Regions from separate parts of the Homo sapiens genome. Here regions 1, 2 and 3 are each linked to region 4. The links come from fine-mapping of genetic effects on gene expression. A gene starts in region 4. Each other region holds a variant in brackets. All regions are shown on one strand. Distances are from middle to middle.

What was found. PIP is the estimated chance that this variant, and not a neighbour inherited with it, causes the effect. A credible set is the group of variants that fine-mapping cannot tell apart.
Region 1: its variant is the best candidate, but not a certain one, in a credible set for the expression of ZNF638 in whole blood (TOPMed, PIP 0.54).
Region 2: its variant is the best candidate, but not a certain one, in a credible set for the expression of ZNF638 in blood mononuclear cells (TOPMed, PIP 0.90).
Region 3: its variant is the best candidate, but not a certain one, in a credible set for the expression of ZNF638 in whole blood (INTERVAL, PIP 0.59).

What each region holds. Positions count from the first base shown.
Region 1 is chr2:71,428,422-71,436,530 of GRCh38, forward strand. It overlaps ZNF638 (zinc finger protein 638), which reads left to right. Exons shown (of 28, transcript NM_014497.5): 25 at 126-230; 26 at 2,906-3,007; 27 at 4,744-4,862; 28 at 6,321-6,640. The coding sequence ends at 6,386. Among named protein-coding and RNA genes, the nearest start is that of DYSF, 34 kb to the right of the region's middle. The variant A/C (reference allele first, on the strand shown) is at 3,347.
Region 2 is chr2:71,846,439-71,854,547 of GRCh38, forward strand. No RefSeq gene overlaps it. Among named protein-coding and RNA genes, the nearest start is that of CYP26B1, 300 kb to the right of the region's middle. RefSeq lists a silencer at 2,741-3,035. The variant TC/T (reference allele first, on the strand shown) is at 4,587.
Region 3 is chr2:71,364,865-71,372,973 of GRCh38, forward strand. It overlaps ZNF638 (zinc finger protein 638), which reads left to right. Exons shown (of 28, transcript NM_014497.5): 6 at 565-842; 7 at 3,518-3,664; 8 at 5,019-5,141. Among named protein-coding and RNA genes, the nearest start is that of ZNF638, 37 kb to the left of the region's middle. The variant C/T (reference allele first, on the strand shown) is at 4,047.
Region 4 is chr2:71,327,204-71,335,312 of GRCh38, forward strand. ZNF638 (zinc finger protein 638) reads left to right here and starts at 4,579. Exons shown (of 28, transcript NM_014497.5): 1 at 4,579-4,672. RefSeq lists enhancers at 4,172-4,859, 4,860-5,545 and a silencer at 4,379-4,588.

The sequences.
Region 1 (8,109 bases), 100 kb after region 4:
TCCCTCCCAAATTTGGGTATTTTTTGCAAAAATGTATAATGTTGATTCAGACAGTATAATATGTTTAATTTAAAGCAATTTAAATACTGTTACTAGAGCAATAAATTAGGACTTTCTTTTTAAAGCTAAAACTCCAACCAAGAGAGTTAGAATTGGGAAAACTCTGCCATCAGAAAAAGCTGTTGTGACAGAACCAGCAAAAGGTGAAGAGGCCTTCCAGATGAGTGAAGGTAAAGCAGGATTGTTGGAATGGGAAGGAAAGTTACACAACACAGGAGAGTAGTTGAAGTTTAAAGATCTATCTAAGAAGAAAAGTAGAAAATCAGTGGAATAGAGCAGGGGTGGGAAAAGTCAACTATAGTTATTAGATGTGGGTAACATTTTGATCTTTGTAATGTAGAGAGAATGGATTATTGATATTAGAATGTGACAGATTAGAGGAAATGATCCTCGAAAGGTTTTCTGACCATGTTGCAGCATCAGATAGAAATTATTTATTAACTAGCTATTATTTGTGGACCTTGCTTTGTTGATGCTTGTCAGCAGCCAGCCAATGAATTAAACAAGAAGCCTTAATAGCGTTTATAAAATTTAACTTGAAACAAATAAGGAAGGGTCTAGTGAGAGAGAATACTTTAGTCACTCAGCAGATACTTGTCATATTGTATTGGGTATCCTTCATAACAATGTTAAAAAGGGTAGACAAAAGAAAGTACATAGCTCTTGCTCTCAAGGGGTTTATTGATTCAGAGAGGTTAAGCAAAAAATCACCTTGCCAGTATGATTTAAATAGAGCACTGTAAGGGTATCGCTTTTACCATTCTCTTTGTAGCACCCTCATTGCCCTCTTTCTTTCCTATCCTATCTTCTTTAAGGAAAACTTACCAAGTATGATTTGGTCCAAGGATTTCAGGTGGGCTCTCAGTGCTGCTCCCAATATATTAGAGGTCTCCTTCCTTTACTATTTCCTAACCAGATGTAAAATTAGCTTTCCCCCCCTTCTACATCACCTAACCCGTTTCTCATTGGATGTCCTTGCTTTCGTTTTTATTTGCCAGAGTAAATCTAGGATCTCCCTTGTCTGCCAACTTATATTTTGTTTTATACACATAAAATATAAAATTTGGCCAAGTTTTTCCCATTGAAAGAAATATCCCTTTGACCTTGAAATCTCTCTAGCTCCTATCTTTTCTACTTGCTTTTAGAGCAAAACGTCTAGAAAGAACCACCTACTTTTACGTCTTAATTTCCCATGGAACTGAATGTATTTTGGTTTCTTTCTCCTACCACTTTCCTGAAAATGATGTTGATGAAACCCCCATTAGGTTGTTGTCAAACGTGATTTTTTAAAGTGTTTTCTTCTTAAGTTAGTCTTACTTGACTTTTCCACATGATTGGTTACTTTTGATTATGCCCTCTCTTGAAACTCTTTGCCAAGTCATGGTCAAGTGGGTATTCCTTCTTCCTTGTCTATTCTTTTCCATAAACAATCTTTGATAACCAAGCTATAGGTGGTGGTTCAGTAATTAGGTTCTCGCATGATTTCATGAGGTCACCCCCCGACTTCAGAATTTCTGTATGGTAGGGCAACCTTGGCAATCAGCTTGCTTAGAACTGCCTCATTGCAACTGAGTAATATAAAAGGATGATTTAGTTACTGCTTACGTAACAATATATTTCTACTAATGAACAATATGTTTTGACAAAAGGACCTAGCTTAAGAAAAAGTCATTTTTCCACACAATTGTAAACTTAAATCATTTATTTTAATCTATTTTAAATATATAATTTTAATATATGTTATATACTATTAAGATAAATGTGCCTTTGGAGTGGCAGGAACAGATATGTTTGGGAAAGTTTATTACCCTGATGAAGAAATAAACAATTATAGAAAGAGATTGGAGGCAAGGAAACCAGATTGTTTTAACCATCAAGTTAAGAAAAGGAAGATACCTTTTTCTTATTGATTGTAGGACTTGATGATCAGTAAAGTGTGAGGAATAAGAGTAAGTAATGATTTCAGAGTTCCTTGCCATCCCCTCAGGAATACTAAAGAGTAGCCCAGATGTATGGAGGGAACACTGAACTTGAAGTCACAAAGTCTTGGTTCTAGCCTGTGTCACTCACTAGCTATGCAACCTTGGGCATATCTGTTTATTACCTCTTTTGATTGTGCTTTCTCCATCTCTGAAGAAATAGGGATGGGTTAATAATGATTTCACGTGCCTATCTTACATGAGGTAAAAGCTAAATGAATGATTATATATGTAAAAGGGTTTTGTCAAGTATTAGGCAACAGTAAGGCATTTCAGCTACTGAGGGTAATCAGAATTGCTTGGAATCAGTCTTCATTTTTGTCTGTCCCCAAGATCATAGTATGCAGAGTCTGCTAACATTGAGTGCTTCTTACGTGTTACTCACTTTGGTGGGCTTTAACATTTATATTAATAATTTTACTTGTGTTTCTAACAGGGGTCTTAGGCTATCAGTTTAGGCTCCATTTTCTAGATTGGAAGGGCCTCAGTATTGGGCCATAGAATCAATTTCTGCTGGTATCCTTTTCCCTTAATCTCCACTCTCGGCTCAGCTTAGCACTTTGCATATATAAGTTCTCTTGCCAGTAATGATAGGACTTGTATTACTTCGTTAAATTCTGCCTGGAACATATATAAATAAAATTTGCTGTTAGCTTTAGACCTATATTCCTAAATCCATTTGAATGGATTTACCCATTTATTCCTTACATTAAAGAATCTTGGAGAATATTGTGCAAAGAATGGCCAGATGGGATTAACAAAGGGAGGTTTTCCCTGAGAAAGAAAAAGGTAAGAATTATCCAATGTTAACTTTACAAAGTCTGTAAATCTATTCTGAATAGCTTTTTTTCCTCGAAAAATTTTAGTTGATGAGGAATCTGGATTAAAGGATTCAGAACCAGAGCGAAAACGCAAGAAGACTGAAGACTCTTCTTCAGGCAAATCAGTGGCGTCTGATGTCCCTGAGGGTAAAGTTAAAATGACATTTTTTTCTTACCCATATGAAATTTAAAAGTCGGCCGGGCGCGGTGGCTCAAGCCTGTAATCCCAGCACTTCGGGAGGCCGAGGCGGGTGGATCACTAGGTCAGGAGATTGAGACCATCCTGGCTAACACGGTGAAACCCCGTCAGTACTAAAAGGTACAAAAAATTAGCCGGACGTGGTGGCGGGCGCCTGTAGTCCAAGCTACTCGGGAGGCTGAGGCAGGAGAATGGCGTGAACCCGGGAGGCGGAGCTTGCAGTGAGCCGAGATAGCGCCACTGCACTCCAGCCTGGGCGACAGAGTGAGACTCCGTCTCAAAAAAAA[A/C]AAAAAACAAAAACACCATAATAAGTATTCTATTGTTTTAGGTGAGTAATTGGGTAACCTTGGCTGCATTGTCATTTTATAGTGGAAATTTGCATGTTTTACACAGTGGCATTTTTGAAGACAGCTTACTGGGCTGTTTTTACCTGAGAAGGATATTTTTACTGCACTCTTGAAATCTGGGATGTATCTCCTCTTTTATTCCTGGTGCTTTCTTTGCCACTCTGGTGAGAATTGAGTTATATTTGCCCAGGCAGAAAGTCACTCCAGTTAAGCAGAACATGCTGCAAATCTTTGCTAGCCGACTTTGTTCATGGTCAGCTAAGGTGAGCTGAGGGAGACCTTATTCAGCCATCATACTCCTCAATCAGACAGTTGCCCATCATTCTACCTCTTCTCTCTCTTTTATTTTAATGGGATTCCTAAGAGGTTTATTTTTATTATATTTTATTTTGAGACAGGGTCTCATTCTGTCAGCCAGGCTGGAGTGCAGTGATGTGATCTCAGCTAACTGCAACCCTTTCCTCCCAGGCTCAAGCAATCCTCTCACCTCAGCCTCATGAGTAGCTGGGACTACAGGCGTCTACCACCACACCTGGCTAGTTTTTGTATTTTTGGTAGATACAGGGTTTCACCTTGTTGCTTAGGCTGGTCTCAAACCCCTGAGCTCAAGCAGTCTGTCCGCCTTGGCCTCCCAAAGTGCTGGGATTATAGGCTTGAGCCACTTCTCCCAGCCAGAGGTATATTTTAGACTGTTAGGTTCTTATCTAATGACTTGGTATTCTGAAGGATTATTGAACAGTTCTTTGTTATCCGAAGATTCTCCTTGGGAATCTATTCAACTTGGCATTATACCAAAGCAGTGGCATACTGGCATTCCCTAGAGGTTCTGGAATAGTATAGAATGTGTTAACGAAATAAAGACTTACGTTTTCTGATTAAAATTACTACTATTGATCCCTAAATTTATAGCAGTGTGTACTGTTCTTATATTTAAGTATATACTGTGCTTAATATTTTTGTCGTGTTTAAATTGATGAAGGCCAGTTGTGGCTCACACGTGTAATCCCAGCACTTTGGGAGACCAAGGCAGGCACATCCTATAGGGGAGGTCAGGAGTTCGAGACCAGCCTGGGCAACATGATAAAACCCATCTCTACTAAAAGTACAAAAGTAGCCAGGCGCGGTGGCGCACACCTGTAATCCTAGCTATTCGGGAGCCTGAGGCAGGAGAATCACATGAACCCAGGAGGCAGAGGTTGCAGTGAGCTGACATCGCGCCACTGCCCTCCAACCTGGATGACAGAGTGAGACTCCGTCTCAAATAAATGAATAAATCGATGAACACAACTGGAGATTAATTATTGTTAATTTTCTTCTTGTCTCTTCTTATCCTCTAGAATTAGACTTTCTTGTACCTAAGGCTGGATTCTTCTGTCCAATTTGTTCCCTCTTCTACTCAGGTGAAAAAGCAATGACAAATCACTGCAAGAGTACACGTCATAAGCAAAATACTGAGGTAATTTTAAAAATTCTTACAAAATCTTGAGGTGTTGTTATTGTCTTAGAATCAAATTATTTATCTCCCCAAACGTACATTTCCCCCCGCTTTAGGAGAATGTTTATGCCAGTTTATTCCTCTTAAGTCCTGTTTTCTCCTTCAGTGTACCTTGCCTGTAATTTCTAGTCCTTATTCCTTTTCCTTGAACAGCAACATTTGCCAGAGTAGATTCTGCAGATCACTAGTCTCATATGACACTCCATTATTAAAGTAAGAAACTGCATGTTTTGATGCCCTCTTGTCATGTAGACATTAGCATATTAAAGTTTCTGAATTGTCTAGCCAGAATGAATCCTGGTTAACTTCATGCAAACCATTTATTAAACTGATTTAATCACAAAACCTTTTCTAAATTGTACACATCTTTAAGAAGTGTTACTCTGGAGAATCATCATTAACCATAATTGAAGTGGTGACTCTAGTTCCTGCTGAATATTTGAGAGTTTCGTACATCCTCTCTGTTGAATTTGTGGCACAGACACTCATCTAACATTTACTGAGCTGTTCTATGCTGGAAGCTTATTTAATCTCCTCATGAACTTCATGAGGTAGATGCTATTATTCCAATCTTAAAGATGAGAAAATAGACTTAAGGAGGTTACGTATCTAAACCCAAGGTCACATAGCTAGTTAGTAGCAGACCTAGGATTTGAACTCCGCTCTATTTCATTCTAGGCCCAAGCTCTTATACATTGTGCTTTGCTACCTGTGTGCTTAACTTAGTTCATCATGTCACTTTTCCATTTAAAACCTTCTAGTAGCTTCATATTGCACTTGGTCTAATATCCAAACTTCTTATTTTGGGTCTTCAAAGCCCTGCATGATCTGATTTCTTTTCTACTTCTCTGAATGCTTTCTGTGTTTCAGCTTTTCTGGCTCTCTCTGTTCTGTTTTTCATACATGAGAGACCCATTGCTGCCTTTGCACCTTTATACTGCTGTTCTTTTGCCCCTTCCCAGTCCTACTCGCATGGCCAGTTCTTCATGTTTTTCGTCTCAAATATCAGTTCCCCAGAAAGGTCTGCTTAAGAAAGACCTAGCTAAGTAGAACCCCCAAAAAAGTTCAGCCTCAATTACGTTGTTGCACTGTCTTTAAAGTGCTTACCACCGCCCCCAAAGTATTTTATTTTTTTCTTTTATTGTTTCTCTTCTCCCATTAGAATGTAAGCTTTATTGTATAAAAGATTCTATCTGTCTTGTTGCCCACCGAATCCTCAGGCACCAAGTGTAATACCTGGTGTGTCATAAACATCAAATGACTGATGAATGAAAGGAAGAAATGGTTATATAAGGCACTGTGTTTATAATATTTTGTAGGATCAGTTTCTTTTAAATTATAAATATACAGTAGATAAGTTTGCACACATAGCAAAATAACGTCTAATAAGTATTTTATATTGCAAATTGCTTTTAACAGAAATTCATGGCCAAGCAAAGAAAGGAAAAGGAGCAGAATGAGGCTGAAGAAAGAAGCTCTAGGTGATTGGGGGAAAGGAAAGAATTCACTAGAAATTTGTTTAGGGTCCAGTTGATTTGTGTATTTTTGTTATCATTTAATTTGTAATTTTCGTTTCAGAAGCAAATATTCGTGTTGTACAAATTTCTGATTGCCCTAAATGTAGAGAGACTGATGGGGAAAGTATGATGGGTTTGATTTTTATATCAAATCATCAGGCATGGAGAAATATCTTTTAGAAGTGTTAAAATAAATGTTCCTACTGTATATTTAAAATACCATCTGTGTTTGTGGCTGATTTTTTAAAGACTTGCTTGCCTCTGATTGCAGACAAGGTTTTTCACTACAACTCCTGTGATTTGGGATGTTTGGGGATTCTTCATGTATCACTGGAAGTCATAGCATGACAGTGTTTTACTTTGCTTCAACCATTCATGTGTATACAGGTCATAGATTTCTTAAAATTCAAATTTTTTCTGGATAAAATTAGATTACAGCATATTTTCCCCAAATAGGTTTGAATGAAACTTTGCTTGATTTTTATATGTGTTGGAAAGGTATTTTTTCTGCTTCTGGTAACACTTGCTGTTTCTGCCAGAACCCATTTAAGGTAACACCAAGCTAGTCATTTATTATTAGCTTGAATCTACAGAGCAGCCATTACTTCTGTGGACCACCAGAGTAGCTTTTTAAACCATTTGAATTATAGTTGAATATGTTTATAAGAAGTTTTAAGGGCACAAAAAATAATTGAATGGCTAGCAGGTGATGGAAATAGCCCTATACTTTTAAGTTTTTAGATTGAGCCATTCTTCAGACATAGTCTGAATACTTATAATTGTTTTAGTATTTGATGCCTCAAGATAGAGTGCACCAATTAATAATACAAAGAGGATGAATGGAGGGGAACAACAACAACAACAACAAAAACCCTACTTTTTTTAGATGTCTTATTTCCATCACAGCACAAGAGACATCACAGTCAGTAAGAAGGGCTTGGAGAAAAAAAAAGGCAGCACCTCTTTGTCACCTCCTATGAAACTCACTGCATACTTAGTCGAGACTTACCCACAGCCTGAGTAAAATTACAGAATGCTACACGTCACAGACAAGGGGTGGGGTAGAGAGAGGAGCGGCTTGCTGTCAAGAGTTTGTTGGAATTAAAACCTTACAGATGAATCCGGATAATAAGAGGGAGAAGAGCTGTTAAAAGATTGGGGAATAAGGTGCCTGTAAATTACAGAAGCACAGTGATAGTGAATAAGAATCTTAGTTTTAAAGAATCTTCCTTTCTCCTCAGCTTGCTTTTGGAACTTTTGCAACTAGGGAAGTTATAAGCTTCTTTAATCTTGTCTGGATCAGTCTTTTGAAATTGGGATTCTAAATTAGAATGAGAGGAGGAGCTGCTAAAGCATAAAAATGGTAGGGGTGATTTTTGTGTTTTATCCTAGTGACCAATGTTGACCATTAATTGTACATTATAAATAATGTTTTTCTCTGGGACTTTTTGCACTTAATGCTGGTAATTTTTATCATAGGGCTTCAAATACAAAAGATTTGTATGAGGTTTTCAGAAAATAAACATGCTCTTTGCATATAATTTTAGTATTGTTCTTGGCATTTTCAGAAAATCTTCCTCCTTTAGTCACACCACACAAATGGAACGTCATATACATAGTAGTTTCTGCTTATTAGTTGATTGAGGGATATAATTAGGATTGCAGCTGACTTAATTTTTTTTTTTTTTTTT
Region 2 (8,109 bases), 520 kb after region 4:
AGGCTTGAGCAAGGAGGCAGGGCTGATGAGGATAGAATCAACGGACTGCTGGATCAAAGAGCCAGGCAGCTGACCCTTAAGGGGCTCTGGCAAATGCCATATCAAAAAAAAAGAAAAAAAAAAAAAAGAATTGTAACCAGTCTTGCTCTAATTGGAGAGCTCAATAATCTCCTTCTCCTCCCTCTCCCGTTCCCCTTTCTTCATCTTATTGTTTTTTAAACTAGAGATCAAATTGGCTCTCTGGCCCTGCCACTAGATTGCACCTGAGGAACCCAGACCAAGGGTTTGGCCAAGAAAGCCAAAGGGGAAGAGACTTCATGAGATGTGGGAATTGCAGGCAGGGGGTTATAGGGGAGGGAAGAGGTAGGGGCTGGGAAGGGCTGCAGCAGGGGTGAAGCTGTGGCAGCGGACTCAACTCAGCAGACCATCTCCTTCTAGTCACTCTTCCCTGGAGTGTCCCTTCGACAGGGACAAGGTTTGAATGAGAGGCCCTCAGAGGAAGATGCTCAGGCCCCAGGCCCAGGGACCTGAGCTGAAATCTGCTGCCTGAGGGAAGTTTGAAAAAGCTTGCCCTGATGGTAACTGTGAAGCTGTGATTACTCAGGGCTCCCGGCAGAGCTCCTGGCAAAAATCATAGGAAGTGACTGGTATGGTAATTAGTGTGACTGAGAAGTCCAAGTCCTGGTTGAGATCCAGGGTGGGGTTCTTTCCATTGTTCTGTTTCTCATCTCCTCAGCCACAGCTGGAACCTCTACCAGTCTCTGCAGGCTGAGTTTGACCCCAATTCCAGTGTGGCAGGGACCACTAACTGTTGCCCAATATCTGCTCTCCCCACCTTCTAGGTACATGGGAGGTGGCACTTCTCCATTCCTTAGGAATTAAGAGGGACCATGTGGCTTGCTTTGACTGAAGATATGTGAGCAGAAGTGTTGTGTGCCCCTCTGGTTAATCAAACTTGCCTGGCCATGCTCAGCTCTCCACCTCTGTCTTGTTGCAGCAGCTGTGTAGGCACCTGCTGATGTGGAGGGGCCATGTTAAGACATTGCACAGAAGAGCCTGCCAGGAGAGTCACCCAGACCTGCTATGTTAAGTCACTGATACTGAGGGCTATTTGTTACCATATCATCACTTTGCTTATGCTGACTGATACCAAACTGACTGCTATGTGGCTTCTGTGGGGCAGAGACGGAAAGTGGATAAAAGATAGAAGAGTTATCTTCCAGAAGTCTATAACACCCAGGGTTAATAATTTTTCTTTGGAGTTAATTCTGATCTGCAAGAACAAATTAACTAGAAAAGTGACAGTGGGAGGAATTCTGATGAATAGTGACCATTAGATAGCCAGTGAGATTTCCAAAAACTCTGAGAAAAATAGTCACTCATTAGTTCATGCATTCTGTTGGTTCTTCTACATTTATTCATAGGACAGTTGTGAGTGCCGGGCACTATGCTGCAACAGAGGAGATGGAGATTAGAATGGAAGGCCACTGCCTTTGAGAAGGCAAAGCCTAATAGAGGGCAGAGGCCCTTACAACCCCAGAATCTTGAGACAGATATGGTAAGGCTGAGGCAGGAAGATTGCTTGAGCCCAGGAGTTCGAGATCAGCCTGGGCAACAGAGTGAGACCTCGTCTTTACAAAAAATAAAAAAAATTAGCCAGGTGTGGTGGTGCATACCTGTAGTCCCAGCTACTCAGGAGGCTGAGACAGGAGGATCACTTGGGCCTGGAAGGTTGAGGCTGCAGTGAACCAAGCCATGGTTGTGCCACTGCACTCCAGCCTGGGTGAAAGAGCAAGACTCTGTCTCAGAAAAGAAACACAGAGAGAAGGGGGGTGGGGGCGGGGGGAGAGAGAGAGGCTTCCAGGGAAATCTTGAATGATTTTGATGAAGAAAGGAAAGAAAAAGCTTAAACTGAGATGTGAGAGGTGCAGAAACAAAAGGAAGAAAGAGAATCACAGCCCAGGTTGAGAAAACTCCAAGTGGCATTTCTGTGTCAGTCGCTCTTATGTTGCTATAAAGGAATACCTGAGGCTGAGTAACTTATAAAGAAAAGAGGTTTAATTGGCTCATGGTTCTGCAAGCTGCATAGGAAGCATGGTGCCAGCCACTGCTTCTAGTGAGGCCTCAGGAAACTTCCAATCATGATGGAAGGTGAAGGGAAGCCAGCATGTCCCATGGTGAGAGCGGGAGCAAGAGAGAGAGAAAGGGAGTGGTCTCCGACCCTTCTAAACAACTAGATCACATGAGAATTAATTGAGCAAGAACTCACCTATTACCAAGGCAATGATACTAAGCCAATCATGAGGGATCTGCCCATGACCCAATCACCTCCCCCCAGGCCCCACCTAGGAATCACATTTCAACAGGAAGTTTGGAGGGGACAAACATTGAAATCATATCAATCTCAGTCGCTAATTCCATGGACATTTACTGAGCATGTACTATGTGCCAGGCATGGTTCTAAATGTTAGGAGGATACAGCGTACACAAGGCAGGCCTGGAGATAATCAGTATTGGATATTGATATGAGAAATGTGTAATAAGGGTTATGAGAAAGGGGTTAATACAGAATGAGTGGCTCTGCCTGGGCATTCGGGAAAGGCCTTTATGTGTGCAGACTGCAAACGGGTTCACCGTTCACTCATTCATTCATTTAACCTCCTTTTAGGCCCTGTAAGCCTAGAAGGGGGCTGTCTGGGAGGGGCTGTGCCCTGACGCAAGGGCCCAGAGTCAGGCTGAACTGGGGCAGGCGTCTCCCCAGGGGGCAGGAGCACTGTAGCTGTGGGAATCTTGCATCCTGGTGACAAGGAGAAGCCACCAGCCTGAGCTGAGCCACACATTAAGGGACAAAGTGAGGGCTTTGGAAAGAAATGAGTCACATTGTCAGCATCTGAAAAGACAGGAGTCAGGTCGGAAAGGAGGGCGTAGGGGCCTGAAGAGCTGTTAGGAGCAGGCTCACCACGTCCAGAGCCTTGATGTGGCTGCATACAGGGGAGGGAGTTGCTGACCACAATTTTCTGGATCGATTTGGACTAAGAAAATTTTGTCAAATTTTAAAAATCACAAAAATAGACCTATTTTTGCTTAAAAAAAAAAAAAGAAAGAAAAGGAAAAACCACTGGAGAGAAGGGTCAGATACTTCTCTAAAATGGGCAGATGTTATTATGTGAGCTTTGGTGAGTACCAGGGAGCATCAACCCTCACCACCCTGTGCATGAGCAGTGCAAGGTCGTGTCTCAAGGCAGAAAGCAGGGATCCTGACCACTGAGTCTGGATGGTCACCGGGCAGCCGCCGAGAGCTGAGCTTCCCTGACTGGGGCCGTGAGACTGCCTGGCTCACACCTTGCGGAGGACTGAGACTCCCCACCCCCATGGCCTTCTGAAACTGCTGCAGACAAGGTTGCTTTCCACAGGCCCGGCTTCTGGGGGCCCTGGAACCCAGTGCCCAGACTTCTCTTCTCAGGCCAGGGCTATGGGGCTGTCACAGCACTTTTCACATGTGTGTGCGATTTCTTGGTTTATGTTGGTCTTTTTCTGTCTTTAATTAAATTCCTTTTGGAAAAAATCCATTTCCACAGCACCAAGGGATTAAAAGTTCTCAGTTTTGTTTTTGATTTTTGTTTTTACTCCATCTGTGCCATGGCTCGGGGCCCTTAGTGACTGACTTTCATGTTGGGGACAGCAGGCACCTGACTGAGCTGTGGGCGAGCAGGGGAATGGTGTTGAGTGAGGTGACAACTTGAGACCAGACAGGTGGCAAAGCTAATGAAAATTTTGCCCCCTTACTTCCATACACTGACCCTAAATGGCCACCCTCTTCAAAAAGGACCAGAGCCCCAAATACACACTGCTGTCAGCCCTGATCCCTCTTTAGTCCCTCCCTCCGAGACCCTCCCCTCTCGTCCTGTGTGGCCAAGTCCCAGCCTGGACACTCTGTCTTCAAAGGTAAAAAACAAAGCCGGCTTGTTGCTCCATATTTGTCTTGGGAGTGCTTGTTCCTAGGAGAGCCTCCTGGCCTCCCAGGCCAGGAATAGCACCAGTCTACAAGGCCAGCCTGGCTGCCCTGCCAGCCCTTCTGAATTGCTTGTTTTTATTAAAATTCTTCTGCACGCGCAATCCCTGATGGTGTGTGGATTTTGGATGAGGCGGTGTGGGGGACCCGGGGAGAGGAAGGCCCTAGGCTTATTGGGCCTGGTGTTTATTTGGCCTGCCTGTCCAGAGTGATAGAGAATGGAAGTCCATAAAAGTGACCCAGGATTTGTGCCCCAGAGCTCGGCAGGATGTGACACAAGGCCCATGGCAGGCTTGGACTGGGTCTGGGCTATCAGCCCCCAGATGATATGATACAGAATAGCTCTGGAGAGCTGCAGGAGTGGAAAATGACATGGCTCCGCACTGTTGCACAAATCATATGAGAACTGCTCCCTCTCGGCTTCTACCTGCAGGCTCGGGCTTGGCAGCTGTCCCCTGGCCAGATGCAGCATTTTGAAGCAGCCAGGGCCCACTGTGGCAGCCTCAGCAATATAGAAATGGCCAGGAGCAGAGTTGGGCACCTTGGCTTCCAATTTGTTCTGAGTCTGGTCTGG[TC/T]CCAGGCTCTAAACCCAATGCTTTTCGGGGCTGTGTGTCACCTTCCCAGGCCCACATATTTCTCAGCATTCCTCACCTGGTCTCGGAGGGGGACAGTGCCCCAACTCCAGGGTAGAATCTGTTCTGTATGGTTGGACTTACACACAGAAATTCTACTACCATCATTCAATTCAATTTACCTGGATATGGATTTCCCTCTTGCCCCACTGATCCCCACTCTCCTGGGCCTTTAAGTGAGTCATTCTCCTGGGAGGTCTGGGGTAAGACAGGCAGACAATGACAGACAGTGGCATGGGAGCTTCCAGCCGAAGAGTGCACCTTTCAACATCACAGCCAAAGGCCTAGATGCATGCTCTCCCTACAGCCTGGGCTCTGGGCCCCTGCTGAGGTGACCACCCCCACAAGACCTACGGGAACGTGGTGGAGGGTGTAGGGGTGGGGGAGCAGTTTTCAAGTCAGGAAATTGCAAAAGTTCCAGCGTCCGCAGCCAAAGGCTCAGTGTGGAAAATTTCAGGCTCCAAGCAGGGTTCCAGAGGAGGAGGAAAGGAGCAATGGGGCCAAGATACTTGTCCCCAGCTTCCCAGACCTGGGCCCTCCCCTCACACGCAGGAGGTGTGTCAAGAGCCCAGGGCAGAACTCTCTAGTAGAAACCTCTGTAGAGTCCAGGGGCTGGCTCACACACCTTCCCGACTGGTCAGAGAGAAAAATGCATACAAAACAATCCTAGCTTCCAGGGAATGCTACAAAGGAATCCCAGCCCTCAGTGTTCAGAGGGAAACTGAGGCACAATGAAAGGAATCTGCTGTAGATAAGACCAAAGTTTCATCGTAGGGGACTGTCTCACCCACATATCGGGCAAGCGTCACAGTTCCACATAGGAAGGGGTGTATGCTCATGGGGGAAGGTTCAGGGTAGGACTGGTGGTCTTGGAAGGTCTCCCCTCTCCTCAGATTCTTTCTGGGGACTTGCTCTAGGAAGAGCTGAGGCTCAGGGTAGCCAGAACAATGAAGTGGTGGAATGAATTGGGGAGTGGGTGCCAGGCATGGAGGCCAAGAGTGTCTGCAGCCCTGCCAGCCAAGACTTCCTCACTGCCCGTTCAGCCCCTACTGCCGTGTACCCCCGGTGGGTCCCTGCTCTGCGGCAGGCATGCTCCAAGTGGCAGGGCTCCCACCTGTCATCAGGAATCACCAGGGCCCCACAGGCAACCCGGTGACCCCGCGTCCTGGCCAGGACTGTTTGACCGGGCCTAGGGGGAGCCGCCTGCCCGCCGCCACCAGCATCTCCGCCGCCTACTTGGGCCTCCTCGGGGCTCCTGGAGCCGGGCCGAGAGCGTGCAGCCTGCCGGCTTGCGGCTGGGGATTTCACTCGGAGCCGCTACATTTGGAACCCATTATTTAATCATTAATTTCCTCCTCTCGTCGACCCCTTCCACCCCGCCTCAGCTCGGCGCCCCCGCCCCAGATTAGATCTCCACGTGGTGCTTTGCAGTGATCCTTGACAGGGCTTCTGTGCTGGGGACGGGAGGCGGGGAGGGGAGCGGCAGCTGGGGCTGGCCCAGGGCTGCTCGGTAGGTTGGCTGGGAGGGAAGAAAGGGCAGCCCGGAGCCTGGACCTGCGGGGCTGGAGGGAGAAAAGTATCCAGACCCTGACCCCAGGAACTAGTGGTGTGAGCTGTGCCTGGCTGAAGGTGTAAGAACAGGGACACTGCTCCCTCCCCTCAAAGCTCAGGGCAGTCCAGCTGACCCAGCCCCGGTGTTTTGAGGTCAAGGGCACCTGAAGCTCCTCTAAGCCTCTATGTCCTGCCGTGGAGCTCCTTGCCCCCATTCTACCTTGGGGGTGTGTGGGGTGGAGAGAAGGTGAGTGGGGGATGGAGGCCCATTCTGGGTAAGGCTGTAGTCTGTGCCCTCCACTGTCCTTCCACCCCCAGCCCTGTGCCCATCCAGGTAACGCGGCATGGCTCACCTCAGAGAGCTCCCAGTCAGACCCAGGAGGTTGTAGGGAGCACCTCCTGGCTGAGTGAGTGACCAGGAGCCTCTATCACACTTTGCAGGACACAAGGGGAGGTGAGGCTGAGGGTGCCCACACTTCCTGCACTCTCTGTCCTCCCACAGACCCTTCATTACATGCTCCAAGATCAGAGAGCTGAGGGATTCCTGGGTAGGGGCAGCGCTGAGGACACTGTGCACCTGGGTGGGAGGGACAGCACTGGAATCAGGGAATAGGGAAGGAAAACATGCACTGGTGCCCACTATGGACCCTGCCTGCATGCTGGGCACTTTTCTGACCTTGCTGTGTCGTTGCCAGAAGCAGCAGCCACACTGGCTATAAGATGTGCTTTTATGTGCCTGACCATGTCCTAAGCCTTTTATATCCCTTACCTCACTGTAACACTCCCAGCAGGCCCAGGGGAGGCACTACTATTATGCTTACTTTAAAGATGGGGATACTGAGGCTCAGAGATACATGAAGCAGCTCTCAAAATCAGAAGAATCAGGAACAAGATTGAAAGCCTGTGCTCTTCCCAACACTTAAGAAGCCTCTAGCTGCAAACCTCATGGTTAGCTGGGCTGGGGTATGAACCCAGGCCCCCTCTGTCATTCCTTACCCCCTATCCCTGGAGAGAGCTGGCCAGTCACTGGCATATCTCAGTAAGAGATGCTAAAGGGACAGAAATTTCTCTTGCTCACAACTCCACTCACAGCAAAATGCCCTCCCTCATCCCTCCATCCTGAAACACCATCTTCTTCCAAGGCCCATCTCAGCCAAGCCCTCCCTGACATCCCCAATCTCTTCCTTGAATTCTTAGCAGCACTTAAAGGCCGAGATGCATTTCTTGCCCTTGTTCTGATGTCTCCAGAAGTTTTCTATGGGTGAGACTTTTCTCTCACCAGCCTGGGAGCTCTTGAGAGAAATACCATCATAAAAGTGCCCCTGGGCCGGGTGAGGACCCAGAGGGCAGGATGCTCAGGTTCCAACTCTGTACCGCATTGCCTCACCGCTGCCCACAGCGGGTGCCACACGGGTATGCACAGGCCTGGAATCCAGAGGGCAGGCCTCCCTTTCCTTCATACACTCACTGACCACAGTAGCAGCTGATTGCTGGCTGAACCTGTTGAGAGGCTGTGGAGAGGCATAGGCTCAGCCACCTCCCACTCCCACTCCTGCTACAGATGCTGAAGCTGGATGCTAACTTCCCATGCGACTGGGATGGGGGCATCTGATCAGGGCTGGAGACTCCCTGCCTGGACTCTAAACCAAACCCAGGACAGGGAAGAATGATTCTGGTGGTCACTTCAGCATCAGCAGCCTTCAGTTTCGAGGGAGAGCAGCAGCAGCAGTGCCAGCTGTTGTGCCCAGTGTTCAGAGCTGGTGCATCTCAGAGCCCCTTCTGTGACGTGCTTTGGGCTATGCCCTGGCTTTTCAGCCTTCCACTACTCTCATCTGTTTTTTTGAGCCTGTCTTTCTACCCTTTTGTGCAATTCTGGGGGACATTGAATAACCTTTCTCTGCCTAAACTGGCCAG
Region 3 (8,109 bases), 38 kb after region 4:
TATGAGATCTCTTTTCTAATTACATGCCTCCATGAGGCTGGATTTTCTTTATCCAGAAGCAGATATAAGAATTTAGGTTCTTCTTTTAAGCTCAACATTAAAATGTGTGGAAGAAGGTACTATAGTGCTACACATTTCACTAATTTTGTTTTGGGAATTACAGTTGGTTTTTATAAAAATATTTATGTTAATATGGGAATTTACTTTTTTTGCCATTACTTTCAGTGGCAAAAACTGCAGTTACTTTTGCACCAACCTAACATATGAATTGATAAATATTTTTACAATTTAATTTCTAATATGGTAAATATCAGTAAATATAACACAAATCTTTGTAGTCTTCAATAAGTGTAAAGCAATCTCAAAACCAAAAGTTTGAGGATCACTGGTATAAGGGAATAAAGGAACTTCATGTAAAAGCCTTCTGAGTGCATAAAATCTAGATTTTTGTATTGTCTGTGTGCTCCCTGTTTAGCTTGAGAATAGCACTATGTGATTATGTCATGAGATGGCTCCTACCTTAATTTTTTTCCAATTGAAATTATATTTATATCTTTTTACTAGATAGAAAAAAAGCATTAGAAGATGTAGTACAACGATCTGGGCATGGGACAGAATTTAATAAACAGAAGCATCTTGAAGCTGCTGATAAGGGACATTCACCAGCACAAAAGCCTAAAACTAGCAGTGGAACAAAACCATCAGTTAAACCTACAAGCGCTACAAAGAGTGATTCAAATCTAGGAGGACATTCTATTCGTTGTAAATCAAAGAATCTTGAAGATGACACTTTGTCAGAATGTAAACAGGTGTCTGATAAAGCTGTTTCTCTCCAGCGAAAGGTAATTCTTTAATTAATAATTATTTTTAGAGATAAGGTTTCACTCTGTCATCCTCGCTGGACTGCAGTGGTGCAACAAGCATGGCTCACTGCAGCCTCGATCTCCTGGGCTCAAGTGATCCTCCTGCCTCATCTTCCCAAGTAGCTGGCACCACAGGCGTGTGCCACCATGCCTGGCTAATTTTTTAATTTTTGTAGAGATGGGGTCTTGCCATGTTGCTCAGGCTGGTCTCGAACTACTAGGTTCAGGCAGTCCTTCCACGTCAGCTTCCCTAAGTGCATGAGCCACTATGCCTGGCTTCGTAATTCTTTGTTAGTGCAAATATGCGTACATTTGCTATGACAAACAGAAAACAAAGTTGTTGCCAGGCATGGTGGCTTATGCCTGAATCCCAGCACTTTGGGAGGCCAAGCGGGGTGGATCGCTCGAGCTTAAGAATTTGAGGCCAGCCAGAGCTACGTGGTGGAACTCCCTCTCTACAAAAAATATAAAAATGAGCTGGGGGTAGCGGCGGGTGCCAGTAGTCCCAGCTACTTGGGAGGCCTTGGGAGGCTCAGGTGGAAGGATCACTTGAGCCCGGGAGGCAGAGGTTGCAGTGAGCTGAGGTCACACCACTGCACTCCAGCCTGAACTACAGAAGGAAGACCCTGTCTCAAGAAAAAAAAAAAAATGAAGTTGTCTTAACTTTTTTATTCCGTGTTTCCAATAACTTTGAAATTATGAGTTTTGTTACATGATTTTAGTATGGAATATTTTACTGGTTTTTCTTGTGAGTATAATAAAAGTCCAAGGTTCAAAATCTCGTAGCTTAGGAATTCCAGTGGTTTGGTATTTGATGTGTCAAAAGAACATTTTGATGGTTTGGCATTTTTGGCTAGCTTCACAAGCAGATCACTGTGATGAGTTTTGCTCTCTAATTGGGAAAATGAATAATCACCAGCAGCATTATTGAGCTTTTGTAATCTTTTTTAGTAAGGTATAAGAGTGAGCCTCTCCTGAGAATTGATCATTATTCATCTGTTCTATACTTTTTGTGGTACAGTTCAGAAGTCAAATACTCTGTTGTACAGTGTAAAATTTATACTTTGGTACTGATTTATTAGTGTTATTTTGACTGTAACCTACTGGTTACGATACTAAGGTATTGTTTTATTGTATGTGTTTATTAAATCACTATTAATATATTAAAACATCAAGAGACTATCTTCAGAGAAAATCCTAATAGGCCCAATATCAAATATTTTGTATATTTTAATATTAATAAGTCTTCAAGTATTTAGGTATGGAATGCATTGCTCTCAACAGTATTTAAATACATGAAAGACTTTCAGTAAGTGCTGTTCCCTGCCCCAAAGAACTTACATTTAGAAGGATAAACTTCTGATAATCAACCAGTAATTAACAGAATTTTGAAGAGCATTGGGAAGAAATTTTTGAGTATAGGGAAAATTTTGAAGAGGCTGAGTTAGTCTCATAATATGAAGTTCTTTTCATTTTGTTTCAAGACTTCTAGGTGGTGGCAGTGGAACTTTTTTTTTTTTAAGTTTTCTTATTTAGTAAAAAATAAGAGAAATGGGGGTCTCGCTTTCTCACCCAGGCTGGAGTGTAGTGGCACAGTCATAGCTCACTGCAGCCTCAAGTTCCTGAGCTCAAGTATCCTCCTGCCTCAGGCTCCCAGGTAGAAGACTACAGGTATGCGCCAACACACCCAGCTGGGTGTTTTAATTTTTTTTTTTTTTTTTTTTGAATCAGAGTCTCGCTCTGTCACCCAGGCTGGAGTGCAGTGGCGTGATCTTGGCTCACACAACCTCCGCCTCCCAGGTTCAAGTGATTCTCCTGCCTCCTGCCTTAGCCTCCTGAGCAGCTGGGATTATAGGCGTGTGCCACCACGCCTGGCTAATTTTTTTTATTTTTAGCAGAGACGGGGTTTCACCGTGTTGGTCAGGCTGGTCTCGAACACCTGACCTTGTGATCTATCCACCTTGGTCTCCCAAAGTGCTGGGATTACAGGCGTGAGCCACCAGGCCTGGCCTTTTTTTTTTTTTAAAAATATAGAGTCTTAGTATGTTGCCCATCCTGGTCTTAAACTCCTGGCCTCAAGCGATCTTTCTGCCTTGGCCTCCCAAAGCAGTGGGATACAGGCATGAGCCACCATGCCTGGCTGTAATTTTTAACGTAAGCGGTAAAGTTGATACTACAGTGTATTCAAATGGTATGCATTATATATGAATTTTTAAAAATATTATACCTGTCTAGAGATCATTTCCAATTATTAGAACAGAGGGGGTAAGCAAAGCTGTAATTTCAGCTTTACTTGTTGGTGGGCCATGTAGTTTCATAGAAAAATTCTCTCTAATGGCCTTGGAACATTCCATAGATCTTATTTGCTATAAGATGCTATCAACAGAAAAGAGCACCTGTAAACCATTTCTGGGTTAAAAAATATAAATAACATTTCTTACCACTTTTGCATTTAAAATCTTATTAAAGTGTTAAAATCGTGATTTAAAAATGCGTAAAGGAGGTGGTGAAGGAAAAAGAAAAATGGGTAAAAAATATGGAAAAGACCCTTTAGTGTACTAATATTAGTGGTAGAAGAAATTATATAGGAAATTATTACTGTACATTGTAGCTTAATTTGGTTTATTTTAAATTTTCTTTCACTCCAAAAATAGCTTCGGAAAGAACAGTCATTGCATTATGGTTCGGTTCTTCTTATAACTGAATTACCAGAGGATGGTTGTACTGAAGAAGATGTGAGAAAATTATTTCAACCATTTGGGAAAGTGAATGATGTCCTAATTGTTCCATATAGAAAAGAGGTGAGTCATTTAGTCTGTGGCAAAAATTCATACAAAGTGATTGCTTTAATGATTCTATAAATTGCTGTTGTGTTCCTTAGCTGCTTGTACTGCATATATAATTGTTCTTTGAGAGTTATATAAATGTCTGGATGTGAATAAGCAAGGCCGCAAAATAATGTTTTATATCCTTTAAAATAAGTGTTTGCCCACTTTTTCTGTAAAGGGCCAGCTAAATATTTTTGGTTTTATAAGCCATCTGTAGGATCTCAACTACTGTGCTCTGGCATTCTAGTACAAAAACAGCTATAAGTAATATGTAAATGCGCAAGCATGGCTGTGTCCAAAAAACTATTTACAAAAATAGGTAGTATGCCATAGTTTGCCAGTCATTACTTTAGAA[C/T]ACCAGTTAGATAATACTAAAACAAATTATTTCCTTTGTATGGTTAAGTATTTTCTGTGGGTTATATTCCTATAACTCACATGATAAAGTTAAGAACTGTGAACAGTTCTTCACATAAGCACAACATAAAATAGTTAGTTAAGGCTGGGCGTGTTGGCTTGTGCCTGTAATCGCAGCACTTTGGGAGGCTGAGGCAGGTGGATCGCCTGAGATCAGGAGTTTGAGACCAGCCCGACCAACATGGTGAAACCCCGTGTCTACTAAGAATACAAAAATTAGCCAGACATCTGTAATCCCACCTACGTGGGAGGTTGAGGCAGGAGAATCTCTTGAACCCGGGAGGCAGAGGTTGCAGTGACTAGAGATGGCGCCGCTGCACTCTAGCCTGGGCAACAGAGTAAGGCTCCGTCTCAAAAAAAAAAAAAAAAAAAAGTTTTGTGAGTTAAGGCTGGGTGTGGTGGCTGAAGTCTGTAATCCCAGTACTTTGGGAGGCCAAGGCTGGAGGATCGCTTGAGGCCAGGAGTTCAAGACCAGCCTGGGCAACATAGCAAGACCTCTGTCTTAATTTTTTTAAAAAGTTTGTGAGTCAGGACAGGGAACATAGTGATAGTGTTGTCTTTGTTGCAAGAAGCCTTTAAAATGTCAGACCTACCACAAGCTGGACCATATCTTCCCTTCCCTCCTGTTGTTCAGTGAGCCCTGCCTTCTCATTTCCTCTTCTTCCATGAGCCTGCCTGGATTTTTTTTTATCTTGGTAGTGGTATAGAAATTATGTAAGGTTAAATGTCCATTTAATGTGTGAAACATCCTTAATCAAATTATACTTGACCAAAATAAAAACAGGCAAAAGCAACCATGACTTGAGGTAGTTTCATAGTTTGATGTTACAAAAGAAAGGATTAAGCCCATTTTAAAATGCAGGAACTTTTAAAGATAGATTTGTGACTAAAGATGGAATAAATTTCATTTTAGGCTTACCTAGAAATGGAATTTAAAGAGGCAATTACTGCAATTATGAAGTACATTGAAACAACACCTCTTACGATAAAAGGAAAAAGTGTGAAAATATGTGTTCCAGGAAAGAAAAAAGCACAGGTAATCTGGATTTAGGTCTTAAATGTTTTATCACTGTTGTTTTAGTTTAACTTTTTTGTTTAAGTATGGCACACATATAGAAATAGGCATAGAAACATAAATGTTAGCTCAACACATTATATGTGCATTAATTCAAGTATGTTGAAATTAAAACTTCCTCATACATGTATGGTGCTATATACAGTATTAAATAACGACGACTAGGAGAAAATACTTGCCATATATAACACAAAAATAGCAAACATCTGTGAATCTGGTACCTAGGTCACAAAAGAGAACATTTGACAGTATCTGGAAGTCCCTTGCTTGCTTCTTCCCAATTCTTACACCCTCCCTTCTTCTCACAAGTAAACACTAACTTGATTTCTAATGCCATAGTTGAGTTTTGCCTGTTTTCAACTTTACATAAACAAAATCGTATAGTGTACATTCTTTGGGCCTTTACTTCCTTAGAAGTATCAAGTTTTGTAACTTTAATTTTTCTAGATCATTTCTGTGCTTCAGTTCATATGATCGTAGATAATATCTATAGAATTACTTTAAATTACCCTTTAAGGATGAGCTTTCTGTTAAGTAAAAAGCTATATGTATATCTCACCTGTAAGGTTTTCTTTGTGTATGTGTGTGTTTTTTAAAATAGGGTGTTGAGAAAATATTTTTATATCTTAAAAAAAATTATTGTATTTTTAATTTTTGTGGGTACATAGTAGGTATATATATTTATGAGGTACATGAGATGTTTAGATGCAGGCATGCAGTGTGTAATAATCACATTATGGAAAATGGGATATCTGTCCCCTCCAACATTTATTCTTTGTGTATCAAATAATCCAGTTATACTCTTATAATTGTTTAAAAATGTAACATTAAATTATTTTTTACTATAGTCACTCTGTTGCGCTAGCTAATACTGGGTCTTACTCATTCTGTTTTTTTTTGGTACCCATTAATTATCCCCTCCTCTACCCCCTGTTACCCTTCCCAGCCTCATAACCATCCTTCGACTTTCTGTCTCCATGAGTTCAGTTGTTTTAGAGCCCACAAATTGTGGGATTTTTTAGATACCACAAATAAGTGGGAACATGTGATCTTTGTCTTTCTGTGCCTGGCTTATTTCACTTAATATAATGACTTCCAGTTTCATCCATGTTATTTTAAATAACTGAATCTCATTCATTTTTATGGCTGAAGAGTACTCCATTGTGTTATGTACCACATTTTCTTTATCTATTCATGTGTTGATGGACACTTAGTTTGCTTCCAGATCTTAGCTAATGTGAACAGTGCTGCAAGAAACATGGGAGTACAGATACCTCTTCAATATACTGATTTCTTTTCTTTTGGGTATATATACCCAGCAGTGGGATTGCTGGATTGTATGGTTGATCCTATTTTTAGTTTCTTAGGACCCTTCAAAATGTTCTCCATAGTGATCGTACTAATTTACGTTCCCACCAACAATATACTGAGGGTTCCCTTTTCTCCACATCCTGGCCAGCATTTGTTTTTGCCTGTCTTTTGGATAAAAGCCATTTTAACCGGGGTAAGATGGTATCTCATTGTAGTTTTGATTTGCATTTCTGTGATGATCAGTGATGTTGAGTACCTTTTCGTGTGCCTTTTTGCCATTTATGTGTTGTCTTTTGAGAAATGTTTCTTCAGATCTTTTGCCCATTTTTTTTTTATCAGAGTATTAGTTTTTTTTTTTCCTGTAAAGTGGCTTGAGTTCCTTATATATTCTGGTTATTAATCCCTTGTCAGATTTTTTTCCTGTAAAGTGGCTTGAGTTCCTTATATATTCTGGTTATTAATCCCTTGTCAGATGGATAGTTTGCAATTATTTTCTCTCATTTTGTGGGTTGTCTGTTGTTTCCTTTGCTCTGCAGAAGCTTTTTAACTTGAAGTGGTCCCATTTGTTCATTTTTGTACAGCATTTGCCTGTGTTTGTGGGGTATTACTGAAGAAATATTTGCCCAGACTGATGTCCTGGAGAGAGAGTTCCTCCAGTGTTTTCTTGTAGTAGTTTCATAGTTAGAGATCTTAGATAAAAGTCTTTAATCTATTTTTATTTGATTTTTGTATATGGTGAGAGATAGGGTTCAGGTTCATTAATGCATATGGATATCCAGTTTTCCCAGCTGGTACCTCCCTAGGTTACATGCCATCCCAGCCCACTAGCTCTAATCCCAGCCCCAGCCCTAAGAGTTGCCTAGGAGTTGTTGTCCTTGTGTCCTAGACTACCTTTCAGGTTTACCTAGCACCCTGGAGCACTTTAGCCCATGGTAGTGAGACTTGCCAAGAAATTCAGATTCTTATTGCCGGGATGGATGAGTCCTCTTTGGCTAGGTCTGGTCCAAAGGCTCCTTCAGTGCATGGGTGCTGGCTGAGTACAGCATGGCTTTGCTGTCCACTGTGACAGAGCAGCACTGAGTTCAATGTAAAGTCCCCTAGTTACTGCGCTGTCCCTTCCTAAAGTGCACAGACTCTGTCCATGTTGTGGGGCCAGATTAGGGAGGTGTGCTGTCAGGGATTTAAGGCTGTCTCTGCTACCCTCGTCAATGCCTCTTTCAGTGATACAAAGTCAAAACCAGGTAGTATGAATGCTCACTTGATATTTGGTTCTTGTGATGATGCTTTTCTGTGTGCAGATAGTCGTTAAAATTTGGTGTTCCTGCTGGGGATGGGATGAACAGTGTAGGGTTCTATTCTACCATTTTGCTCCACCCAGCTATGTGTTCTAGTAATTTAATTTTTCTACTAGCTGTGGAATGGCTACTTTATAGAGGTTCTATAACACACATTTCTCAATAATTTGATTTGGTAGTCTAACCATGTTAGTGCATTCCTCATTCTTTGTAACTTCTCTATAGTGTTTCTCTGTATGAATATACCACAGATGTATTACCAATTCCTTACTGATTGATATTTAGGTTGTTTCTAGAAACAGAACTTTAGTTAACACCTTGTG
Region 4 (8,109 bases):
GGAAGATTCATGTGCATAGAGAAAAGACCATGTGAGGACACGGTGGGAAGGCAGCCAACTGCAAGCCAAGGAGAGAGATGTCAAGAGAAACCAAACCTGTTGATACCGTAACTGTGGACTTGAAGCCTCCAGAATGGAGAGAATTAATTTCTGTTGTCTAAGCCACCCAACTTGTGGTGATTTGTTACGGCAGCCCTAGCACACTAATCCAGCAAGTGTTTCCAGCTCCCCTCCACCTCATCTCCCGTGTCCTCTCTTAATTATGCTGTTGTGGCCTCTTTGGCCTTTCTGCTTTCTCAAGTACAGCAAGCTGGCATTCACCTCAGAGCTTTTACATTTTACTTTCACTCTTCCTGGAATACTCTTCCTCCTAGATTCTATACTGCTTATTCACACACTTGTCAGATTTCTGTTCAAATGTTGCCTTCTTAGTGATGCCTTTCTTGACCATCTCATTTCAAATTGCAGCCTCTGTTATGTGTCCTGATCTTGCTTTGTTTTCCTCCATAGCGTTTGTCACCATCTGACATACTATAAATGTACTTGTTAATTGTCTGTCTCCTTGATCAAGGCTGTACGTGCCATGAGGGCAGGAGTGAGTGTTGCCTTTTGGTTTGCTACTCACTCCTTGATGGCTAGAATAGTTCCAGGCACAGAGTGCACCCTCAAGTAATATTTTGTTCTGCGTTCTTTTATGTAAGGGTCAGTCAGGTGCGGCCACAAGAGGAGTTCCAGGAGAAGCTCAGGGAAACAAAGTTTACTATGCTCCCAGGTCCTAAAAGCAGGAGGCACGCTCTGCCATACAGGGCCACATGAGGAAACACCCAAGTCTGTCAGGAGGCAGAAGGGGCAGGAACGAGTGGCAGGAGGAGGAGCCCAGGCCAAGGCCTTTATTGGAGTTTCTCGGGAAAGGGAAGACAGAGCAGGGTAAACAGCTCAGGACTGGCTAGTTTGAAACATTTCCACAGGCTCTAAGTTATAGGAGTGGTCTGTGGTTGCCTGGTACCTGACCCTGGGATGACTAAGGCAGAGGAATATTGCCTCCTGGGGTATACCTGCCAGATAGAGGAGGATGGCTCTGAATTGGTAGTTTGCATATCAAAGTCAAGCTCCTGGCTGAACTTTGCCTTCTCTAAGAATTGGCTAGCCCCAGGAGTGGCAATTTCTCCCCAGCCAGAAAGGTTAATAAGATGTCAAACATCATAATATACAGAAAATAAAAACATAAACAATACATATTTACTGGCTCAGTTAATGAAATGGCCCTGACTCAGAGGTAGACAGATAGATCGTTAAACCAGACTAGAAGAGCCATAAATCCATTTTTATACATGGGAATGAAATAGTTTTTGTTATTTGCTTTTTAAGGGGAAGATATATTTCAATTATGTGAAAAAGGATGGTTTACTTAACAGCTGGAACCTTCATGATTGCCTTTATTCATTTGGAAGAAAATGAAGCTAGATCTACCTCATACCATAAAAATTATGTTAGATTGATTAAACATCTAAATGTAAAAAATAAAATTGTGAGGTTGTAAACAAAAGTGAACAATTATGAACTGTGAAGTTTAGATAACTCAGGAGAATTTTGTGTAATTTCTGGGTGTGTATGCTTCAAGGGAGTGGGATGAAAAGAAGACTCAGAAGTCATAAATGAAAAGATTGATAGATTTGATTTCATGACCATTTAGTTTATAATAGCAAAAGATAGAAACAAAATTTCAGTGAGGAGAAACTAATTGCCACATATTTGACAAATATATAGTGAGAGCTACCTCCTGATAAGAGACAATCACTTCACTAGAAATATGCACAAATAATATGAAAAAGAGTTTTTTTAAATGAAGAAATACACATGGCTCCTGCCAAAGCCTGGGCACGGGAGCCTGGCTGGGAGTTCACCCTCGGCCCCTTTGTGTTGCCAGTTTATTATCACCAGATAAAACAGTTAAATGGAGACTTAAAAAAAAAAAGAAAGAAATACACCTGGCTAGTAGATATGAAAAGATGCTTGACAGTGACACACACACACACACGCACACACACACATACACACCATCAGAGTCATTCATTCTTTCAAGAAATATTTGCTGATTTTCTACTGCGTACCAACTATCATTCTCTGTATTGGAAATAAAGCAGTGAAGAAAACAGACAAATATCCCTGACCTCAGGGAGCTTACATTTCTAGTGGAGGAAGATGGAAAAGAAACAAATAAATAAATTATTGGTATATCAGAAGGTGATAAGTGCTGTGCAAATAAATAAAGCCATATAAGGGGCCCACATAAAGGAAATGAAAGAAATTTCATAAGTTACTTTGCCTAACTCTAGGGAAATGTTTGAAAATCTAGATGAAATGGATGCTTTTCAAGCAAAATATAAATTACCAAATTCATTGTGGAAGAGAGAGAAATTCTTATCCAACTAAATATCATAAAGTATCAAGAGAAAATTAGAGAAGAACAACTCTCAGAAAAAGCACCAAACAAGATATTTCAAAGGTGAATTATTTCAAACTTTAAAGAACAGGTAAGTCCAATGATATTTAAAGTATTTCAGGTTTGAGAAAGAAGTGAGTTTGTAGGGAAATGGTTATTTTCTTTTTTTTTTTTTTTTTTTTTGAGACAGAGTCTGACTCTGTCACCCAGGCTGGAGTGCAGTGGCGTGATCTCGGCTCACTGCAACCTCTGCCTCCTGGGTTCAAGTGATTCTCCTGCCTCAGCCTCCCGAGTAGCTGGGATTACAGGCGTGCACCACCACAGCCAGCTAATTTTTATATTTTTAGTAGAGATTGGGTTTCACCATGTTGGTCAGGCTGGTCTTGAACTCCTAACCTTGTGATTCACCTGCCTCAGCCTCCCAAAGTGCTGGGATTACAGGCATGAGCCACCTTGCCCTGCCTATTTTCTTACATATTTAGTGGAAGTGACACTTTGTAGAAACTTTTTGGGAAGTTTTTCTACAACACCTATTAAAATTAAATGTATGTACACACATATACATTTAATCTAGCATTCCCACTATGATGATTCTAGCCTTTAGAAATTAAAGCATAATTTGGTAAGTCTTTGTATACAGCAGTGTTTGCAGTAGCAAAAAGACTGGAAACAACTTCAGTGTTCAACAACAGGCTGAATAATTGCTGAGGCAGCTATACTATGAATATTATACAATTATTTAAAAAAGGATTATATGGTTTACTTGGAGAAATGTCAGTAATCAGAAAAGCAAATAGCTAATGTGTGAAAAAAGAAAACATTTCCTGTTACATGCAAATAATGTGTTTGTATGAATATAAAGAAATGTATGGAAGGAAACTTATCAAATGTTAACATGGGTTATTTGGTGTTTAGGGGGAGCTTGTTGGCTTTTTCTTTGTTGTTTTTGATTTGTTGTCCCTAGCAGGATTTTTGGTTTGAAATGAAAATCCGATAAGATATCTTTTTAAAACGACTTTTCTTTTTAGTCTTTCAAATGCTTGTTTTAATGTGAATAAAAGAAATGCATTTGCTTGAGTGCTAGGTAAAACCGATGTGTGAGACTCAGGGTGGGTGGTGTGATTTGTGTGGTATGCATACGGCAGGGCTTGTAGCTTTACCAGATTTTGAACAATGACTGGGTTTTCATATTGGTGTAGTACAGCCACCTCGAGAAGATAAAACATTGCATAACACAGTTCTTTAACGTCTGTCATCCCAAGGTTTTCCATGGGTAAAATGGAGATTACAAATATCTACCACACAGATAGGGCTTTTTATTGTGAAATGACAAAAGGATTTTCAGAGTGTTAAAGTTTTAGCTGAATAGCTTTGGTTGAATTCTACTTTACAGTTTTGAGTAGCTATGACACACATCATTGCCATAGGGATCAAAAGGTGCAAGGTGACAGGATAAAAGCAGGCAAAATCTTGACCATACAAAGCATTATATTAACGTGCTAGGCGCGAATATAACCTGTTATAATATAATGTTGTTATTATTATTTGAGATGGAGTCTCACTCTGTTGCCCAGGCTGGAGTGCAGTGGTGCAATCTTCCCTCACTGCAACCTCCGCCTCCCGGGTTCAAGCAATTCACCTGCCTCAGCACCCCCTAGTAGCTGGGACTACAGGCGCGCGCCACCGGCTATTTTTTGTGTTTTTAGTAACGGGGTTTCACCCTGTTGGCCGGGCTGGTCTCGAACTCCTGACCTCAGATGATCCACCCACCTCGGTCTCCCAAAGTGCTGGGATTACAGGCGTGAACCACCGCGCCTGGCCATATAATGTTATTATTGAAGGCACAAATGATCAGGGAAGACTTCATGAAGGAGGTGAGACAATATAGGTCTTAAAAGGATGAGCGGTTTGGAGAGGACAGGCACAGAACCAGCAAAAGAGTGAAGACGGCGCTGGAGTTTTTTTTTTTTTTTGCCGCACGCCTTCGCCGCCACCACGCGGGAGCGCCCCTTCCGGGAGCCCGCTCCGCCCGGCTCTTCTCGGGCTTCGGGCGAGCGCGGTGCCAGCGGTACGCAGGCGCCGGGAGCCTACGAGGGCTCGCAGGAGCTGGGAGGCGCGCATGCGTGCAGCTCTTTGGAGGCGGTAGCGTTTTCGGCGTCGAGACTGGAGGCTGAGTGCTAAACTGTGTGGGGCGCGGATGGGATCCAGCTGTTAGTCGGGTAGGCATAGGTAGGACCGCTGCCCTGTGGGGAGTAGGGGGTTGGAAGGCGGAGGCCGGTATCGTGGGGGTCCTGAGCCCTTCCTGTGAGATCCGGGCCGACTATTGTATCTGTGTCGCAGCGGCTCCGCACAAAATGGCGGCGGGCAGACGGCGGGGGCGGGAGGAGGTTGGGGGACCCCCGGGATGGGAAGGGAAGCTGTGCTGTGCTGCCCTGCTCCGTCGTTTATTCACTTCGCTACCCGGGAGGGCCCGTCCGGGTACTCGTGAAGGACCCTGCCTCGAGAAGAGCTGCCTGACGCCGTTGCACTGGGCCGAGGATCGTGAAGAGCCCTTTGGCGAGGCCGAGGCGGCCCCTTCCCCAGCAGCGCCCGGCCTGCCGAGGCTGCGCTGGGCCTGACAGCCGAGGAAGCGGTGGTGAGGGAATGCCGAGCAGGGAGGAAGCGTTCCCGTCGGGCCCGAAGAGGCGGTGGAGTTTGAGCCGAGCCCTCTGACCAGCGACATTGTGCAAGAAGCGTGGAGAGAAGAGCGTGTTTGTGTTTGGGGTTGGGGAGGGGGTGTCGGGATGAAGGAGGGAATGTTAGGATCCAGCGGCTTTTCCGGGCTGGTGTTCTGTGCTGCGTAGTGCAGGTATGAAACCAAAGAAAATATCACCTCTGTGGGAGACTGAGGACTCATAAATGGTTGTGATACCTAACAGTATTTCCAAATTTCTCAGAGGAATTGTGAAAACAGAACGTTAGTGAATTGTTTTTGTGTGATTCTTAGCTTGGGCCCCGTTCTCTTAAAGGAAGGGGGAATGTATATATCACAGACTGGAATCCTTGAGAACGTTTGAAATAGATCTTTTGTTGTTTGAGGTAATTGTTAATGAGGGATACTTCAGTATTACAAAATCATGGATTGAGCTATAGAGTGAAGGCTACCTGAAGCTAATTTTTCTTAATCTTAAAATTTGTCCTTAGGCGAAGTTTGGGGCCAGGACCAGAAATTGTAGTAGTTTAAAGGAGTCCCGATGAAAAACTTGTCACCAGGATCCAGCGATTTATGTTCAAGTACTTTTTCCAACGAGCTCTGGAATTTTGCACAAAAAATTTTCTGCTTTTTCCCCTCATTTGTTGTAAAGGATTATTTTTTCAGGGATGTTGTGCTTGCTGGTTCAGATTTACAATTAAAAATTGATAACCTGGAGAAAAGGATTGACCAAAAAAAGGTGAATTTAAGGAAGTTTTCGGAGAAAAACAAACATGTAAATGACATTCAAATAGCTTTAAATTTTGTTAATGATTAGACATTTGAGACTTAGTGGACTTATGTTGCTGTCTTTTAAAAAAGTTTGACAGCATTTTATATTTTATTTTGTACTCCATATTCTGTAATATGTACTTCTAAATAATTACAGGGCGTCCCAGCATGTTATACATTAAAATATGCTGGGCCATTCCTTCCTTGGGGATTTATTTGTCTTGGAACCAAGAAAGGGTAAATATAACAGTTGGAAGAAATCACAAAATCTTATTCGTTTTTATTAACTAGTTTTCATAATGTGTTTATGGTCACATATTTATTGTATATTGGTTGTATTTGTTTTGTAATCCTTTTTTGCATTTTGTTTTGGAGGGTGTATACGGCAGGTACTCTAGGTTAAAAAGGTTTAGGTACTGTAGTTTAAAAAAGTCATCACTTTGTACTTGACTATCTTAGGGTTTTTCTTGGGTGCTCTTAAGTAGGTGATCTCCGGAAATTTTGTTTTTATGTAAGTGGAAGAAAATGAGACAAGTAGTTTAGTGGAAAGAGAATAGGCTTTGCAGTCGGAAGATCTGGATTCACATCTCCCTTTTCCTCAGTATGTGTGAGACTTTGGTAAATTATTTTAGTCTTTCTTGAGCTTTTGTTTCCTTATCTCTAAAATGGTGACATTATTACTTCCTGCTTGGGATTTTTGTGAGTGACTGTTAAGTGAGACAGTGTATGGAAAGCTCGTATTCCTTGGCACATACTAGGTGCTTAATGTTAGCTGTTACTTGTATTTCAAAATTGAAGTGCTTAGGCAGCATTGTTTGATAGAAAATTATAATCTGTGGGTATTCTCTTCTAATTAAACGGCTTAAAAGGATTTAGAGTAATAGAATTTTGGAGTTGAAAGGCCCTCTAATCTAACTTTCATTAAAATATTTTGTGCTTCTATAAACTTTTTACATGCCTTTCTTGTAGAACTTATCAATATATATTGTAACCATTTATATGATTGTTACGTTAGTCTTTGTATCTTTCCCAGTGCCTGGTATGTATTAGATGCTCAGATGTTGAGTGAATGAACTCAGCTGGTAGTCACCAGAGCCTGGACTCTAAATCATGCTCTTTCCACTGTACCTTAATGTATACTGATTAAGGTTTGGACTAAATTTGTCCAAATCCTTAATAAAATGCCTTATATACTTAGAAACAGTACTTCCAGTATTGGTACCCAGTAACATAGCTTGGGCTGTTTTGCAAGGAAACAGGCGCTAATGAATGCTGCCATGTAGTGGTTTTAGAGACTCTCCAAATTGAAAGTAATTATGTTTGTGGCTAAAGCTAATAAGCCCTCATGTGTATCCAGCTTATCTACTCTTAATTGCTTTAACTTTGTTTAGTGTTTTGAAATTTGTGATGGAAAATTAAAATGGAAGGAAAATAAGTATATAGAAGATGAGAAGAGAATAATGGAAAGGAAAAAGAGTGAGGAAAAGGTGAGATGTAGAAATAAAACACACAACTGTAATAATGCGGGTGAGGGCCGGGTGCGGTGGCTCATGCCTGTAATCCCAGCACTTTGGGAGGCGAGGTGGGCGGATCAGGTCAGGAGATCTAGACCATCCTGGCTAACACGGTGAATCCCCATCTCTACTAAAAATAGAAAAAAAATTAGCCGGGCGTGGTGGCGGGCGCCTGTAGTCCCAGCGACTCGGGAGGCTGAGGCAGGAGAATGGCGTGAACCCGGGAGGTGGAGGTTGCAGTGAGCCGAGATTGCGCCACTGCACTCCAGCCTGGGCGACAGAGCTAGACTCCGTCTCCAAAAAAAAAAACAAAAAAAACTCCGGTGAGGGTTAAGAATAATAAGGGTTTTGGTTTGAAAAGAAAGTCCAGGGTTTTGGTTTGAAAAGAAAGTCCAGGAAACAGGAGAAATAGCTTTAACGTACATTATGTTTTTTTGCTTTGTTTTTGAGACAGGATCTCACTCTTTCTCTAAGGCCACCATGGTTCCCTGCGGCCTCTACCTCCTGGGTGCAAGCGATGTTCCTGCCTCAGTCTCCTGAGTAGTTGGGACAACAGGCACACGTCCCCACACTTGGCTAATCTTTTTTAAAAAAATTCATAGAGACAAGGTCTTGCTGTATTGCCCAGGCTGGTCTCAAACTCCTGGACTCAAACCATCCTCCCACCTTAACCCGCCTAAATTGCTGGG